Regions from separate parts of the Homo sapiens genome. Here regions 1, 3 and 4 are each linked to region 2. The links come from fine-mapping of genetic effects on gene expression. A gene starts in region 2. Each other region holds a variant in brackets. All regions are shown on one strand. Distances are between the middles of the regions.

What was found. PIP is the estimated chance that this variant, and not a neighbour inherited with it, causes the effect.
Region 1: its variant is fine-mapped to the expression of AMZ1 in whole blood (TOPMed, PIP above 0.99).
Region 3: its variant is fine-mapped to the expression of AMZ1 in prefrontal cortex (BrainSeq, PIP 0.95).
Region 4: its variant is fine-mapped to the expression of AMZ1 in whole blood (TOPMed, PIP above 0.99).

What each region holds. Positions count from the first base shown.
Region 1 is chr7:2,707,908-2,712,077 of GRCh38, forward strand. AMZ1 (archaelysin family metallopeptidase 1) reads left to right here. Exons shown (of 7, transcript NM_001384743.1): 4 at 681-809; 5 at 1,168-1,337; 6 at 1,733-1,909. Among named protein-coding and RNA genes, the nearest start is that of AMZ1, 22 kb to the left of the region's middle. RefSeq lists enhancers at 1,637-1,736, 1,656-2,351, 2,497-2,716, 2,727-2,776, 3,417-3,576 and a silencer at 1,897-2,056. The variant G/A (reference allele first, on the strand shown) is at 2,611.
Region 2 is chr7:2,686,061-2,690,187 of GRCh38, forward strand. It overlaps AMZ1 (archaelysin family metallopeptidase 1), which reads left to right and starts at 2,142. Exons shown (of 7, transcript NM_001384743.1): 1 at 2,142-2,236. RefSeq lists an enhancer at 2,841-3,110.
Region 3 is chr7:2,719,508-2,723,677 of GRCh38, forward strand. It overlaps AMZ1 (archaelysin family metallopeptidase 1), which reads left to right. Exons shown (of 7, transcript NM_001384743.1): 7 at 1-176. Among named protein-coding and RNA genes, the nearest start is that of AMZ1, 33 kb to the left of the region's middle. The variant C/A (reference allele first, on the strand shown) is at 1,609.
Region 4 is chr7:2,726,820-2,730,989 of GRCh38, forward strand. GNA12 (G protein subunit alpha 12) reads right to left here. Exons shown (of 4, transcript NM_007353.3): 4 at 1,286-4,170. It also overlaps a transcript of AMZ1 not described here. Among named protein-coding and RNA genes, the nearest start is that of AMZ1, 41 kb to the left of the region's middle. The variant G/T (reference allele first, on the strand shown) is at 2,482.

The DNA.
Region 1 (4,170 bases), 22 kb after region 2:
CTACCTCCTGGGTTCAAGCAATTCTCCCGTCTCAGACTCCTGAGTAGTTGGGATTACAGGCACGCACCACCAGGCCCGGCTCATTTTGTATTTTTAGTAGAGATGGGGTTTTGTCATGTTGGCCAGGCTGGTCTCGAACTCCTGACCTCAGGTGATCTGCCCATCTTGGCCTCCCGAGTTGCTGGCATCACAGGTGTGAGCCACTGTGCCCGGCCTTACCGAGGGTTCTTGTGATGGCATCAGGCTCAGCTGGCTGCTGCAGAAAAACGCCTCCATCCCAAGATCTTTAATCATCTGCAGCCCCTTTGGCTGTGGGGACTCACAGGTCCCAGGGCTGAGACGTGGACTCTCTGGGGCTGTCGCTCAGCTGCTGAGGTGGCTTCTCCTTCCTGGGGCTGCAAGCGCCAGTCTTGTTGGCCCGGCTGCCTCTCCAGCGTCCCCACTGGGCTGTCCATGGCCTTTGACTTACCATGTCCTGATCTCCAAATGGCCCTGGCTGTCACTCCACATCATGCAGTACTGTGTGCCCTCAGGTCACACCAAACGCTGGTGGCCCACACCTGACTTGGGAAGGGGCAGGGCCCAGGCAGAGGAAGAGGATGACGGGGTGCCAGCCTGAGCCTGGAAGATGGGGGTCCCCGGCTGCCTCCTGACCCCATCCTCTGGCCCTCTCCCCGCAGACGGCATCCTGTCCTTCTTGAAGAACAACAAGCCAGGGGACGCGCTGTGTGTGCTGGGCCTCACACTGTCTGACCTGTACCCCCATGAGGCCTGGAGCTTCACCTTCAGCAAGTTCCTTCCAGGGCACGGTGAGCCGGGGCCCCAGCAGCTGTGCGTGGGGGGTAGCCTGGCATGGGGCTGTGGCCTCCGTGGCTGCAGGGCACCCTCTTTGCTTTTGCTTCAAGCACCCTCCTGGTGGAAGTCAACACCTGTGCATGGGAATAGATGGCCCCTTCCAGCTCCTCCTGAGGAATGGCATAGGGGCTGTTCCTCAGCTGTGGCGTCTGCCCCAGGGCCCAACTTCATGTGGGCAGGACAGGGCCTCCCAGGACTGGTATGTCTTTGGGCCATGGCCAGCTTGCATGAGAGCATGAGGTGGGTTTGACGGTGGGCCCCCCAGAGCCAAGGCTGACCCCTGAGAGTGCCCTTCTCTCCATCTCTCTCCAGAAGTGGGCGTCTGCAGCTTCGCCCGGTTCTCAGGGGAATTCCCGAAGTCGGGGCCCAGCGCCCCTGATCTGGCCCTGGTAGAGGCAGCAGCAGACGGCCCCGAGGCCCCCCTGCAGGACAGGGGCTGGGCCCTGTGCTTCAGTGCCCTGGGGATGGTTCAGTGCTGCAAGGTGGGTGGGGGCTCTGGGGCTGGTAAGAGGGGACAGGAGGGTGCTGTCTGAGCCCTTGGTGCCTCGGTCTGTTACACTGCCCCATCCTCACAGTGAAGTGGATGGACCCCTAACTCTATGGAATGAGGAAAGCAAGGCTACACAGCTATGAAGCAGCAGGGGAGGGATTAGAGCCCCAAGCCCCTATCCTGTGTGGCCTCCCACCCTGACTCACCTTTCCCCTGGGGCCCTGAAAGTGGCCTGTGCCGCCTGGGGCAGGGGGAGGGCGCCTGGACCACCTCCCGGCCATCTGGCCTCACCCAGGTCCTCATTTTGGTCCTGCTGGGGCTGCCTGGGGATCTGCCGGATGCAGGGGCAAGGCAGTGAGGCAAGGTGCTTGGTGGCCTTCCCCCCAGGTCACGTGCCACGAGCTCTGCCACCTTCTGGGCCTGGGGAACTGCCGCTGGCTCCGCTGCCTCATGCAGGGTGCGCTCAGCCTGGACGAGGCCCTGCGGCGGCCCCTGGACCTCTGTCCCATCTGCCTGAGGAAGCTGCAGCATGTCCTGGGTTTCAGGCTCATCGAGAGGTACCAGGTGAGTGGCTGAGTTGCGCTGCCCGGCTGCTGGGACCTGCGCTCCGGAGGCCCGCGAGCGCCGCCTGGAGGCTACGCAGGGCATGGGGACCGCACACAGGCTTTGTCAACTGCCGGGTTCCAGGCAGTGCAGAGCCCTGGGACCTGCGCTGGGGTTGAGCTCCATCCGGATCTCACTGGCAGTAGATCGAGTCCTGCCAGGGCCCGCGTGTGGTGGCTGTGACTGGGAGGTTGCAGCGGGGTCGAGTGGGGACGAGGGCTTTTCTCCCTCTGTCAGGAAGAGCTGGCATTGGAGCCCAGCCGGCGGGTGGCACGGTCTTCCCAGGGTAACTTTCTCTTTGCTTTCCCGTCACCCACACTTGGGTCACTGCTGCTCAGAGGAGGCACAGGCCCCTTGCGAGGAGGTGGGAGCTGACACAACAAGGCTTGTTGGAGGTGGCCTCCATTCCTAACTCCCTCTGTCGCCTGGGTGGGGTTGCCGAGCAAAGGGCTCGTCCGTATTCATGGACATTTGTTTGCAAGCTCAAAAGCTTTACTCTGAGTTCTGAGTGCAAAGGCAGGTGGTGGTAATTTTTCTTCAAACCCAGCTTTGGACTACAACCAGTTATAAGGTGCTCACTGCGTACAGGCACCAGAGCAGTCAATGAAACCGCGCTGGAAAGCCCCTGCATCCTCCTCCCGCCCGTTGAGGCAAGTGGGGGT[G/A]TGGTTCCCGGACCGAGCCTGTCAGAATCCCCTGCAGGGCCTAGCTGGGCCCTCCTTCCTTCTGGGGTAGAGTGAGGAGCTGTATCTTGCAGGGTCCTGGGTGACACTGAACTAGAGGCCGTGGCATTTCTAGCTCACAGTGCTGGAATCTCTCTGCAGGGATCCTCTCTGAAGACTCTGGCAGTCAAGGGAAGGTGAAGGGGGCACAGAGGAAACAGCTTTTCCAAGTGTAAGGAGAAGAGCCTGTGACTTGGGGGGAACCCAGGCGCAGCCATGGCTGAGGGTAGGAGCATCTCCCGAGGGTACAGGTGGCGTGATGGCTGGTCAGCACCTGGTGATGCCTTGTAAAGGTTGCTGCTGCCAGCTGTGCCCCGTCAAGGGGCAGCTCTTAGTACCTTCCTGAGGCTGTGTAACAGGCACAGGGGCAGCTTGGTCTGCAGAAAGGGTTGAGAGCTCTCATTTGATGCCTTCACCTGGGGTCTTGTGCAACCATCTGACATGAACTTTTAGAAAGTGTATGCCCCTCCCTACACGTGCTGACCTGGCATAGCCTGGATCCACCTGGATCTGAGCTGGAGGGTGTAGCTCCTCCTCCTGCCCAGAGCTCTCTCCGTTCCGTGAGCACCATCTCCTGAGGCTGTGGAGGGAAGAGGGCCAGGGCAAAGGCACTCCAGGGTGGCCTGGCCCTCCTGGCTGTTGTAGGGAGGGCAGTGGTGTGGATGTGAGGTCACCTGCTGTCCCAGGGCTTGGGGAGGTGCTGGAGAGCTGACCAAGGGCCTGGCCAGAAAAGGTCACTGCTGTCCACTGACAGCAATCAGTGAAATGCCTCTTGAAGAAAGCCTGACTTGTTGTGGTCTCTGCCACTTCCTGTGGTGTAAACAGTCTCACGATGGCTGATGTGAGCTCCCAATGTGATGTCAGTGAGTGCTGAGTTGGGAACAGATGTGCAGTGGGACCTTGTTAAACTGTGTGTCCCCTGTACAGATGCAGGAGAGGAGACTAACCTTGAGAGCAGAGGTGAGAGTGAAATGGAGAAAACATTTAGGAAGTGAGTTTCAAGTACTGCCTTTGCTTTACATTTTTTTCCCCCTGGTGGTCTCACTATGTTGCCCAGGCTGGTCTTGAACTCCTGGTTTCAAGTGATCCTCCTGCCTCTGCCTCCCTGTGCTGGGATTACAAGCGTGAGCCACCATGCCCACACCTTTGCTTTAAAATTTTAAATTTTATTTAATTATACGCTTTCTGGGTGGGTGCCGTGGCTCACACCTGTAATCCCAGCACTTTGGGAGGCGGAGGTGGGTGGGTCATCTGAGGTCAGGAGTTTGAGACCAGCCTGGCTAACATGGTGAAACCCCGTCTCCACTAAAAAATGTAAAAATTAGCCAGGCATGCTGGCAGGAACCTGTAAAATCCCTGCTACTCAGGAGGCCAACGCAGGAGAATTGCTTGAACCTGGGAGGGGGAGGTTGCAGTGAGCTGAGATCGCAGCACTGCACTCCAGCCTGGCCAACAGAGTGAGCCTCTGTCTTAAAAAAATCGAAAAATGTTAAGTGTTCTAAC
Region 2 (4,127 bases):
CACAGTGATATATGCTAGTGAGACACCAGGAGAAACCAAAATATCCCAAAGCAGGTGACAGATCCATGACACGGAGTCCAGCGCAGACCATCAGGGTGTGGAGACGGACTTTTGGCTATTGATGAGTGTGAAGTCACGGGCCGCCTGCAGAACGCAGTATGTGACGTGAATCCCTTAAAATATGTATTTAGGCTGGGCACGGTGGCTCATACCTGTGATCTCAACATTTTGGGAGGCCGAGCTGGGAGGGTTGTTTGAGCCCAGGAGTTTGAGACCAGCTTGAGCAACATAGCGAGATCCCATCTCTACATAAAAGTTTCAAAATTAGCCAGGTGTGATGGCACGTACCTGTAGTCTCAGCTACTCAGGAGGCTGAGGGAGGAGGATTGCTGGAGTCTAGGAGGTCGAGGCTACAGTGACTCGCGTTTATACCAGTGCATTCTAGCTTGGGCAATAGAGCAAGATCCTGTCTCAAAAAAAACTTTTTAAAAATACATTTCAATGTGGAGGAGAAGGCGATCAGAAGGATGTCTGACAAGAAGGTGAGAGAGGTTACCTCTACACAGTTGGCTTATGGGGTCTTCTTTTTGTTTTTATTTTTCATAATTTTCCAAATTTTGCACACCGGACACCTAGTGTTGTGTTGTTTTTCTCTCTCTCTCTTTTTTTTTTGAAACAAAGTCTTGCTTTGTCACCCAGGCTGGAGTGCAGTGGCATAATCTCGGCTCACTGCAACCTCCGCCTCCCGGGTTCAAGTGATTCTCCTGCTTCAGCCTCCCGAGTAGCTGGGACTATAGGCACCAGCCACCACGCCCAGCTAATTTTTTTATTTTTAATAGAGACGGGGTTTGACCATACTGGCCAGGCCGGTCTTGAACTCCTGACCTTGTGATCTGTCTGCCTCAGCCTCCCAAAGTGCTGGGATTACAGGCATGAGCCACCACGCCCAGCCGTGTTATTTCTTAAGGCTTAAAAAAATTCTTTGAGGCTGGGTGTGGTGGCTCACGCCTGTACTCCCAGCACTTTGAGAGGCTGAGGCGGGTGTATCATGAGGTCAAGAGTTTGATACCAGCCTGGCCAAGAAGGTGAAACCCCATCTCTATTAAAAATACAAAAATTAGCTGGACACAATGATGGGTACCTATAATCCCCACTACTCAGGCGGCTGAGGCAGAAGAATGACTTGAACCCCGGAGGTGGAGGTTGCAGTGAGCCCAGATTGCACCATTACACTCCAGCCTGGGCGACAGAGCGAGACTCCATCTAAAAAAAAAAAAAAATTCTTTGCACTGGTGTGGGACGATGGTGACGAATCCCTCAGCCATCTGTGGGGCGCTGCTGAGGGCGTGGGGGGCATTTCTGCACGGTGAAGCAGAGCTGGTGGGAGGCTGCCCGAGGGAAGCTGGTGCTGGGAGGGTTTGCAGAGAGGAAAAGGGCAGTTTATGGAAAAGGCCTCTGGGCTCTGTCTGGAGCCGTCATGCCGGCCTTCACGGCATCCTTCCGCACTTAGAGTCCTTTCCATCTCCTGGTGGCTGGCACAGGGCCAGGGCTGCACTCACAGCTGGCCAGGGTAGGGCAGGGCGCCCGTCCTCAGGGCCACTGACTGTAGGGCTAACCTAGGGGCCTGGTTCACCCCTCTCACCTGGGGCTTCGCTGATAAGCCTGGTTCACCTCCTCACCTGGTGGCCTCGTTCACCCCCTCACCTGGCGCCTTGCCTGATAGCCTGGTTCACCCCTCTCACCTGGGGCCTCTCCTGGTGGCCTGGTTCCCCTTCCTCACCTCGTGGCGCTGGTTCACCCCTCTCACCTGGGGCCTTAACTGGTGGCCTGGTTCACCTCTTCACCTGGCGCCTTGCAGAGTAGCCGGGTTTACTCCTCTCACCTGGGGAGGCACGAACTGGCCCGGGCTGACTGACCTCCCTCACCTGTTTGGCTTTAGGCTCTGGGGCCCCCCTGCCCGGGTGTTTCTGGGAGGCTGGAGGGTCCCACGTGAGCTCCACCGCGGGCAGCTGGAGGGAGTGGGGCAGGACGCTGAGCGCCGGGAGGGGTGTGGCCCTCCTGTCCTGCCCGCGGCCCCACACCGGCCCCAGTCCCGCCCGCCTCGGTCCCTGCCCCGCGCGCCGACGTCACCGGGACCTCCCGATCCTCCCGGCCCAGGCCGAGCTGCCCACGCTGCTGCCCGGGGCTCGGTGCCCGGCGCGGCCTCTGCCGGCTCCGGCGGGCGCGGGACTGCGAGGTAGGGGGGCGCGCGGGGAAGACTCGGGGGCGCAGGGACCGAGAGGGACCTCCGTGCCGGGGCGGGTGGGTAGGGGCAGCTCCGGGTCCAGCCCGGCCCGCGCACCAAGTCCCGAGGGCGCCCGGGCGGCGGCGGCTACGGGCGCGCGGGGACCGCGGAGACGCGAAGGGCGCACTTGGCGAGGGTTTGGTGCAGCGCCGCGCCGGGGTCCGCACAGCCCCGGCAGGTCCTGCAGAGGGAAGGCCGGGCCAGGGAAGGGCCACGCGCCCCCTCCCCGCCATCCTCTCCCAGGCCAGGGCGACCTGCGCGCTTCCCGATGGGAGCAAACTGGGGACGGGTCGGGAATCCAGGGCCAAGCGCCCGAAAGAAGGCGTTTCCGGGCTGGGGCGAGCCAGGTGGGTGCGGGACGTCCCCGGGGAACCTCCAGGGCGCCGAGAATCTCGTCGTGCCCAGGGCTCCCCGCAGCCTGTGTATGAGCCGGGGAGGGAGAAGGCTTCCTCCCCCAGGAGACTGAGGGAGAAGGCTGTGGATATGATCCCTGCAGGGATGTAAGACAGGTCTCAAAACCAGAAAAGCAAGGGAGGGGTGACAGAGAAATGGCAAACTTTACAAAGGACAGGGGAGGGCAGGGACCTGGGTCCTTTCTGCCCCCATCACGGGAGGGAAACACTTGGCAGAGGAGTTTGGGGTTCGCAGGTGAGGAGAGAGAACAGGAAGCCAAGAGTCTGGCCCGGAGGCCACTACCCCTGCGGTCTAAGCCCCCGGTTTTCCCTCCTAGCGAATGGAAACTGAGAGGTGAGAAACCCCCAAAACCATCCGTCCGTCTGGTTCTGCCTGAAGGTCTCCGCTGTCAGCTAATGAATAGCTCGATGCAGCTGCTGGGAGGTTTTGCAAAGCGCATTCAGAATAGCGAGAATCAGAGCATGGTTTCTTGCCCAAAGGCCAGGCATCTGCGTGGTCAGATGGGGGAGCATGAGTGCCCGGAGCTGTGCGGTTTAGGGCAGCCTGACCTTGGATACCTGGTTACTGGGCCAGTCTGGCGGCCCTTGTTGCTTAGAGCGGCAGAACCTCCCTGGGGGGGGGATGCGGACGTGCTCTTTTCCAGTCTTTGGACAAAAAAAGGCAAGGGGAGGAGGAAGGAGAAGCGTCTGAGTTTACCCATGGTATTAATAGCAGCAGGGCTGGAACTCGGGTGCTCTGGGAGAGGAGACGTCCTACCCCCTGTCCCCGTCAGAACATCCCTGCTCCAGGAGCAGCTGGGGTTCCAGTGTGAAGCGTGGCTTTGAAACCAGGCCCCGCTGGCCCCCAGCTGTGTCGCCAGGGCCAAGTCACTTAACGTCTGAGCCTCAGTTTCCCCACCTGAAACACCGCAGTGGCACCTGCGGCTCCGTGTGTGGCTTGGAGGACGCAGGCATGAGACCTGTTGGCTGCTGTCATGACTGCAGTTAGCAGAGGAGGGGGACACACTGTGACAGGGTCCAAAGGACAGCGAGAAACCTCCATCTGGGGGTCTCCTTTTTGGAGCATGGATGGGTTGGTGAGTGCCAGAGGGTGCTGCGAAGCTGACCCCCACTAAGGCGGCTCCCTCCCCGTGGGTACCCCCAGGGCTCACATGCAGCTCTGGCTCTATGTGAGGAGTGGTCTTGTGCAGAAATGACCTGGCAGGATGGAAGGACTCAGCTGGCAGCTGACAGTGGGGACCGGGGTTTTCCTGAATGACCCACGAAGACGAATGTGGCCACAAGGCTTCTTGAGAGGAAATAGTATGTGGGCAGACGTCATGCCCTGGATGCCCGAGAGCTGTACCCGTGTTAAGGGATGGAGGGAGCTAAGCGTTCTCATTCCTAGCTTGGAGCCTGTCACACCATTCTCCAGTCTGCACTAGGAGGTG
Region 3 (4,170 bases), 33 kb after region 2:
TGTATGGCACAGTTATTTTTAAAAATCCAGTCCAAGTGGAAATACACCTGGAACATTTTATACTGCAATGACTGATGGACGACTTTGATATACAAAATAAATTGTTACTCAGCTTTTCTATAATGCTTACATCTTACATTTTCATTCTCAAAATTAATAAATGCTATCAACCCCAATTTTTTTTTTTTTTGAGATGGAGTTTCGCTCTTGTTGCCCAGCCTGGAGTGCAATGGTGTGATCTTGGCTCACTGCAACCTCTGCCTTCCAGTTTCAAGCGATTCTCCTGCCTCAGCCTCCCACGTAGATGGGATTACAGGTGCCTGCCACACCATGCCCGGCTAATTTTTGTATTTTTAGTAGAAATGGGGTTTCATCACCTTGGCCAGGCTGGTCTCAAACTCCTGACCTCGTGATCCACCCGCCTTGGCCTCCCAAAGTGCCAGGATTACAGGCGTCAGCCACCGTGCCCAGCCTCAACTCCAAATTTTAAAAAGGGCTTAAACGAAGAGGATGAAATTCTGGAAGGCTAAATGAAAAGAGAATGTGTCTGTTGAATTCGATAAGCAATTCCTTGCATTTGAGAAGGCAAGGAGCCGACGGGAACCTACCGACAGGGCTGCCACGCACTGCTGCAGAGCTTTCCGTGCAAAGCGCGGCTCCCCTCTGAGACTCGGCTCCTCTGCTGACATGGACCGGTTCATCTACCCACGCGGACGCCCATCCACAAACACTTAGTCACTGCTGGAGGCTTTTAAAACACCTGTCAAATGAAGAGTCACTTCACAAATGTTCACTCCCCGTTTCCATGTCTCCCCACGTCAGGGTGAACACTTTTTATGCGCTGTGACAAAAAGAGAAAGACTAGTGTGTGTTTTGGGGGCTGGAGGGGATCATTATTTTTTTGAATTTTTATTTATTGAGACAGAGTCTGTGTTGCCCAGGCTGGAGTCCAGTGGTGCGATCTTGGCTCACTGCAACCTCCGCCTTCTGGGTTCAAACGATTCTCCTGTCTCAGCCTCCCAAGTAGCTGGGACTACAGGCGCCTGCCACCAAGCCTGGCTAATTTTTGTATTTTTTAGTAGAGACGGGGTTTTACCGTGCTGGCCAGGCTGGTCTTGAACTCCTGACCTCAAGTGAAACACCGAAGTCTCCCAAAATGCTGGGATTATAGGTGTGAGCCACTGCGCCCAGCCTTTAAAAAAAAAAAATTATTTTAGATACAGGGGTCTTGCTATGTTGCCCAGGCTTATCTCAAATGCCTGGGCTCAAGCGACTCTCCTGCCTCAGCCTCCTAAGTAGCTGGACTACAGGTGTGTATCTCTACACTGAGCTAACTAAAAACTTGTTTTTGGTAGAGACAGGGTTTCAGCCACGTTGCCCAGGCTGGTTTTGAACTCCTGGGCTCAGGCAATCCTACTGCCTCGGGCTCACGAAGTGCCTGGATTACAGGTGTGAGTCACCACGCCCAGCCCGTTATTTCTGTTTATACGAATGTCACAGCATGTTTCCTGTGTGACCCTGCGGGCTGTCATCGCTGGCTGCCTGCCTTACGCCCACAGGTCTGGTGGTGGCGACCAGCAGCTGCAAAACGACCGACTCTATTGAAGA[C/A]ACACTGGGTGGCGCGGGAGGTTCCTGCCAATGCCGGGAGGAAGAGCAACCCAGGACGCCTGTGCCTGGGAGGGATGGAAAGGCCAGGGGAGGGTGGAGCTCAGGAGTGGAAGCACAGGGACTAAGGCCTGAGCCGGGCCCTGTGCTGAGCGCTCACCTCACTCTCCTGCCGCGCACCGCAGATGTGTGGAAGATGTGAGGAGGCCTCTGCTTCGGGAAAGGTGCTTGCCCCACGGTGGAACGCACTCTGGAAGCCCGTGGATGCGACGCATGCTGCAGAATCCACTGCCACACACATTCTTCTGTTTGAAAGCAGTAGGTGGGCTGGGCGCAGTGGGTCACTGTAATCCCAGCACTTTGGGAGGCTGAGGTGGGTGGATCACGAGGTCAGGAGATCGAGACCATCCTCGCTAACACGGTGAAGCCCTGTCTCTACTAAAAATACAAAAAATTAGCCAGGTGTGGTGTCAGATGCCTGTAGTCCCAGCTATTTGGGAGGCTGAGGCAGGAGAATGGTGTGAACCTGGGAGGTGGAGGTTGCAGTGAGCCGAGATCGCGACACTGCACTCCAACCTGGGCAACAGAGCGAGACTACGTCTCAAAAAAAAAAAAAAAGATAGCGGCGGGTGGGTGCCACACTCAGGGGCCCCCCACTTCTCAGCAGTGGCGGGGGAGGCAGGGACATAACACGCCAGGAAAACAGGTGTAATTTAAGGCACATTTTAATAGATTTATAAAAATCATATATACAAAACATGTTAAACTAACCACCGTGGCTATAACATATATTTTTACACTTTATCATATCTTAACCTCGTACACTGTATTCGTAAACCAAGTCCGGTCACGGCATGATGGCCCGGCGCAGGTGGTGCTGGCGCTGTAGCGACCGTCTTGGAGGGGCTGCACAGAGCACTCGGTTCCTTTCTGTATTTAAGGTCCTGAAAGGCACAGGCGCTAAAGCCAGAAGGCCGTCCAACTGGTCCCTTCGGCAGTGTGTCCTCCTGCTGCGTGGGCTGGGGCCTGAGCACAGGAAAGGGAGTTCAGGACACGGTGGCCATGAGTAGGTGCCAAGCTTACCACACTGAATTTCCTGGCGACGCTTGTGCCCATCGATGTGAGCTGGTTCAAATGGAGTTAAGAAAAAGGGCATTTCGAATTTTTTTTTTTTTTTTGAGACAGACTCTCGCTCTCTCGCCTGGGCTGGAGTGCAGTGGCGCGATCTCGGCTCACTGCAAGCTCTGCCTCCCGGGTTCATGCCATTCTCCTGCCTCAGCCTCCCAAGTAGCCGGGACTACAGGCGCCCGCCACCATGCCCGGCTAATTTTTTATATTTCAGCAGAGACGGGGTTTCACCGTGTTAGCCAGGATGGTGTCGATCTCCTGACCTCGTGATCCATCCGCCTCAGCCTCCCCAAGTGCTGGGATTACAGGCGTGAGCCACCGTGCCCAGCCAGGACATTTTGAATGTTTTAAACCAATTTGCCTGACAGGTCAAAAGGTAATTTTTTGAGATTCGAGACTGACAGATGCAACAGAGATTTTAAATTTTGCATAGGCTTGTTAAGAACCCAGACTGGGTGCAGCGACTCATGCCTGTAATCCCAGCACTTCAGGAAGGCTGAGGTGGGAGGATCACTTGAGGCCAAGAGTTCAACACCAGCCTGGGCAACACAGTGAGACTCCATCTCTATACAAAATTTAAAAATTAGCCAGGTGCGGGTGGTGGCCACATGCCTGTGGTCCCAGCTACTTGGAAGGCCAAGGTGGGAGGACTGCTTGAGCCCAGGAGTTTTGAGGCTGCGATGAGCTATGATCACACCACTGCACTCCAGCCTGGGCCACAGAGCAAGACCCTATATTTAAAATAAAATAAAGTAAAATAAAATAAAACAAAATAAAAATCAAGAAGGTTCACTGTGTAAAAAAAAAGTAAATCTGAAATGCATTTGCATGGCAGTTGTACAACCTGTGAGTGGTGTAGAAATTATATGTGACTTGAGTACATTTTATAAAAGAAGAAAAAAAAATTGAACAGGTTGACTCCTAATAAGAAAGCACCACAGAGTGTACAGCCCACGGTGCCTGTGGGCTGTGTGGGGGCCCTGCTGCAGACGCGTGCTCAGCACCTGTCACCCACAGCTAAGTCACAAGAGCTGCTGGCACCTGTTTGCAGGGGAATGTGGCAACATGCACCCGGGTGCATCCAGACAGCCTGGGTGAGCGGGAGAGCCACAAAGAACCAACTTCATTCGTGTGATTTCCAGATGCAGGTCTGGTTCAGTTCTTGATGCCCGAGTTTCAAAGTCTCCTACCTGACCAAGTGTCCTCGGCCTAGTTTGTACTGACCTTCTTTGAGGAGCACAGATGGGAAACACATTGGTGGCGAAGATCTCCTGCATCACCCCGAGGCTGCGGGAGATCCCTTGGGAGCCAGCTGTCGGACTGAGGAGGAGGAGGGGTGCCACAGTCTCGAGGGGTTCACGCTGCTGGCCACAGCCCTGCATGCCCCCTCGGCGCTCCCCAAGCTCTCGGGGACGATTCAGATCAGCTTTCCCCACA
Region 4 (4,170 bases), 41 kb after region 2:
ACGGTGCCCTTGCTTCCTGTGAGTGGTCTCTTCGCTTTCTGGCTGGAACGATAACCCCAGGGGTTGTGAGGACAGAACCTCCACCTGCCATCCCCATGGGCACCGCTGGTCTCCAGAGCACGTCAAGGTCCTTCCCCTCCCAGCTTCTGATCTTGGAGAGCGAGGCCTCTCATGCTCACATGCATGTGTTTAGGTGTATATGCTGCCATGCCATGCTTTAAAAATAAAAAGTGTTTTGAATAAAAGCCTCTGGAACACAACTTTATTTATTTACTTTTTTGGAGACAGAGTCCCACTCTGTCACCAGGCTGGAGTGCAGTGGCATGATCTCGGCTCACTGCAACCTCTGCCTACCGGGTTCAAGCGATTCTCCTGCCTCTGCTTTCCGAGTAGCTAGGATTACAGGCGCCCACCACCACACCCAGCTAATTTTTGTATTTTTAGTAGAGTTGGGGTTTCACCATGTTGGCCAGGATGGTCTCGATCTCTTGACCTTGTGATCCGCTCGCCTCGGACTCTCAAAGTGCTGGGATTACAGGCATGAGCCACTGCGCCCGGCCATCTTCATTTATTTTTAAGATGGGGTCTTTGCTCTTGCCCAGGGTGGAGTGCAGAGTGCGATCGCAGCTCGCTGTAGCCTCAAGCTCCTGGGCTCAAACGATCCTTCTGCCTCAGCCTCCCAAGTAGCTGGCACTACAAGCATGCACCACCATGCCCAGCTGATTCTATCCGTAAAGATGGGGTCTCTTGTGGCCTGGGTTGGTCTCAAACTCCTGCACTCAAGCAATTCTCCCACCTTGGCCTCCCAAAGTGCTGGGATTATAGGTGTGAGCCACACCTGTATTATTTACAATGGTTCTCCTACATGCCAGGCTTTGTTTGGTATGTGGAAATAAAAACTGTGATGAATAAATAATAAACCACCTTCAAATAACATTAGGATTAGAGCTGGGTGTGGTGGCTCATGCCTGTAATCCCAGCACTGTGGGAGGCTGTGGGAGGCTGAGGTGGGCCGATCACGAGGTCAGGAGATAGAGACCACCCTGGCCAACATGGTGAAACCCTGTCTCTACTAAAAATACAAAAAATTAGCTGGGTGTGGTGGCGGGCGCCTGTAGACCCAGCTACTTGAGAGGCTGAGGCTGAAGAATCGTTTGAACCCACGAGGTGGAGGGAGACTCTGTCTCAAAAAAAAAAAAAAAAAAAAAATTAGGATGAGAGTGATCTGCTGTGAATCCTGGGGAATGAAAAATCAATTTAGTGTTGGTTTTGAATACTGGCACTATTTTATATTAAGCAAAGAAAGACTAAATTTATTTTAATAAACATTCAGAGGCTGAGGGTGGCCAAATTTTCAAGCCAGACCCTCCCAATGTTAATACACTGTGCAAAGCTTACACCATGAACAACTGACCCGGACCACTACCATTCCAATGGGAGCCTCTGCCTTACAATACCAGGTTAGATGTCTGTGCCCAGAACCCCTAAATTAGTTACAACTAATAATCTTCTTTCAAGAGTTTTTTTTTTCAATCTTGGAGTTAACAATCTGACTTATTTTTCTTTTATCAAAGAAGTAGGAAAATTACAATAAGAATTCTAGAGATCTCTATAAATTACAGACCTATGACTCAAAATCCTTGAAACAATTTCTCTACGAACATAAGAGTTAAAAATAGATTTCAGTAAAACCCTATATGCGTCTTATGTGTACACAGTATAGCTATGAGGAACAGATCTTATTTTGAGGAACTTTATTGTTACATTTTTGCAATAATTGAGGCACAACTACCTCCTGCTTTTCCAACATCTTAATAAAAAAGACAATAAGGATTAACAGTGAAATTAAAATTAAAAAATACAAAAGCCTAAGGTTCTGGAGACAAAACTGACTAGAGTCTATGTGTAGCCAAGTTGTGAATGACAGTTTAGCCTTGCAGAGTTTCCTTCTTCTCCAATTACAATGTGTTACAGAATTTGGAAGGGGGTGTCTTTAAAAACGTTCTAATTCACCCCGGTCATGAGGAGGAGGAGGAGGAAGTCCAGCTCAGCAAGGCCAAGTGCCTCGGCCAGGGCGGTGGGGTCAGCGCTGAGCGGGTCAAGAGCCCGCGCCGGGGGCCATCCCCCTGCGCTTTCTATCGAGTTAAACGGACCCCACAATATCTCCTTCCTCTCATGCTTCTGGTTTGAAAGTGACGAGTAAATATGTCAGACTGTTTAAAGGAAAACAAGCACTCATTGACAAGGCCGGACTACTCAGGAAGGTGTTTCAAACAACTCCCCTGCTACGCGAATCACAGCGCTGCTGTCGCCAACAGCGCCGCGAAGAGGCTCTCCCCGTTGGCGGAGGACCCGCTTGCACTTCCTCTGGGCTCTGGATTCTAACACACACAGGAGACACAGCGAAAGCTGACCCAGAAGGCAAACAAAGCTCACCACGCTCCGGACCGGGCTGCGCGTCACTGTTGCAGACTGCAAATG[G/T]GACCTGAGACCACCCCGAGGGCCCCACCAGGAGCTCTCTTTCTCCTTTAAAACGTGGTCATCGGCACTCATCTCCGGTCACATCCGTGAGGTCTGTGAAGAGCCACAGAAGCAGTACAAAAACAGCGACTTCTTTATCCAGCCAAAAAAGGAGCCACAAGCCCAGCAAACACTGACACACAGCCTCGAGCACTGCGAGAGAGAGTTCCATGCTGTCTCCCGATGAGAACGCTGTGCTAACAGGGTGACCCAGAGGCAGGTTTCCCCTCCCTCTTCTGCTTCTGCATCTGCCCCAAGGGCTTGCGTTTACCGGGTTTGCGGAAAACAAGCCAAGGGTGAGCTGCAGAGGGGCTCGGGGCTCGGGGCAGCACGGCCTCGGGACGAGGGCCCTGGGATATGTGACTGAGCCACAGCAACATTCGGGTGCCAATTAAGAGGACGCTTTTCATTTTCTTGTAAATGCTAGGACACATCCCAAAACACACTAGGCAGGATTTCTCAGTAGAGTGATACACAGAGGGGACCAGCTTGGAATGCAATGTATTTTAAACACAGTGAAAGCCACCTGGCAGGTAGCTGGACAAGTGAGCTGGGCCCAGGACTGGCCAGCTCGTATCAACATTCACAGGCTCCCGCGGGCTCCCCCAGGACAGCGGCATCCGAGAGTGTTTACTCTTCTGCAAGCACAGTCATAGAAGCGAGGGGCCTCGATGAGAATCAGACTTAGGGAGAGCGGCGAACAGGCACGGCTGTCCAAAGGCACTGGTGGAGCGGCAGTTTGGAGAAACTCAAGATTCCTCCAGCGTCTGTGGGCTTCCCGAAAGGTCAGCTGTTAGCTCGCCAAGCAGCTGGGGCATTAACAAAAGCTCTGCTAGTGGCCTTGCCAGCTTTCTGAAGCCCCAGAAGAGGAATGTTTCTGAAAGAAGGAAACGCTATGTGCTGCCAACTGTGTGTGAGCAGATGACTTGCAGGAAGATGGGAGAGCCGTCTGCAAGGGGACCTGGTTTCTGTGTCTTTGCCGTTGGGTTGGGCAGTGGGTGGCTAAGGGGAGAAGAGCACCGCTGTGTGTGCACGGACGGAGCGGCAGTCACCGTGGGCATCCTGTCTCACTCCGTGTTGTGCTGCTGGGCATGGGGCAGGGTGGGAAGGGCTGAGCCTGCTGTAGGGGCGTAAGGTGAATCCACACCTGCAGAGCTCTGCAGCCCGTCCTCAGAGCTGGGAAGGGATCCTAGGCACGGCTCCTCAGCTTCATCTGAGAGGCTTGGACTAGGGGCTCTTAGGAAATCGGCACGGGAGTTTGAAAAGGCAACGTGCTCCCTTTGGGAGGTGGCCTTCAGACACTGCGGCTGGGGCTGCAGGGCCGGGCTCAGGCACTGAGTTTAGCAGCATCGGCGTGCACTGGATCTCTACAAGCTACTGTTAGGCAAAGCTTTCAGGTTAGTCTGTCTCAGGGAAGACTTGTGAGTTAGAAAAGCCGTCTGCAAGGCCAGCTGGTTTTTGTGTTTCTGTCATTAAAGACAGAGCGTGTGTACACACATACACACACAACACGGTCCTCAATTAAACTGCGTCAGAAAAAGAGGAACGTTTCTGTAAAAGCAAAGCAAGCTGTGTGATTAGGTGTTCCGTATTCACAACATCATCACTCGGATTTTCAGTAGTTTCACTCGCCCCCAGGATTCAGTAGCT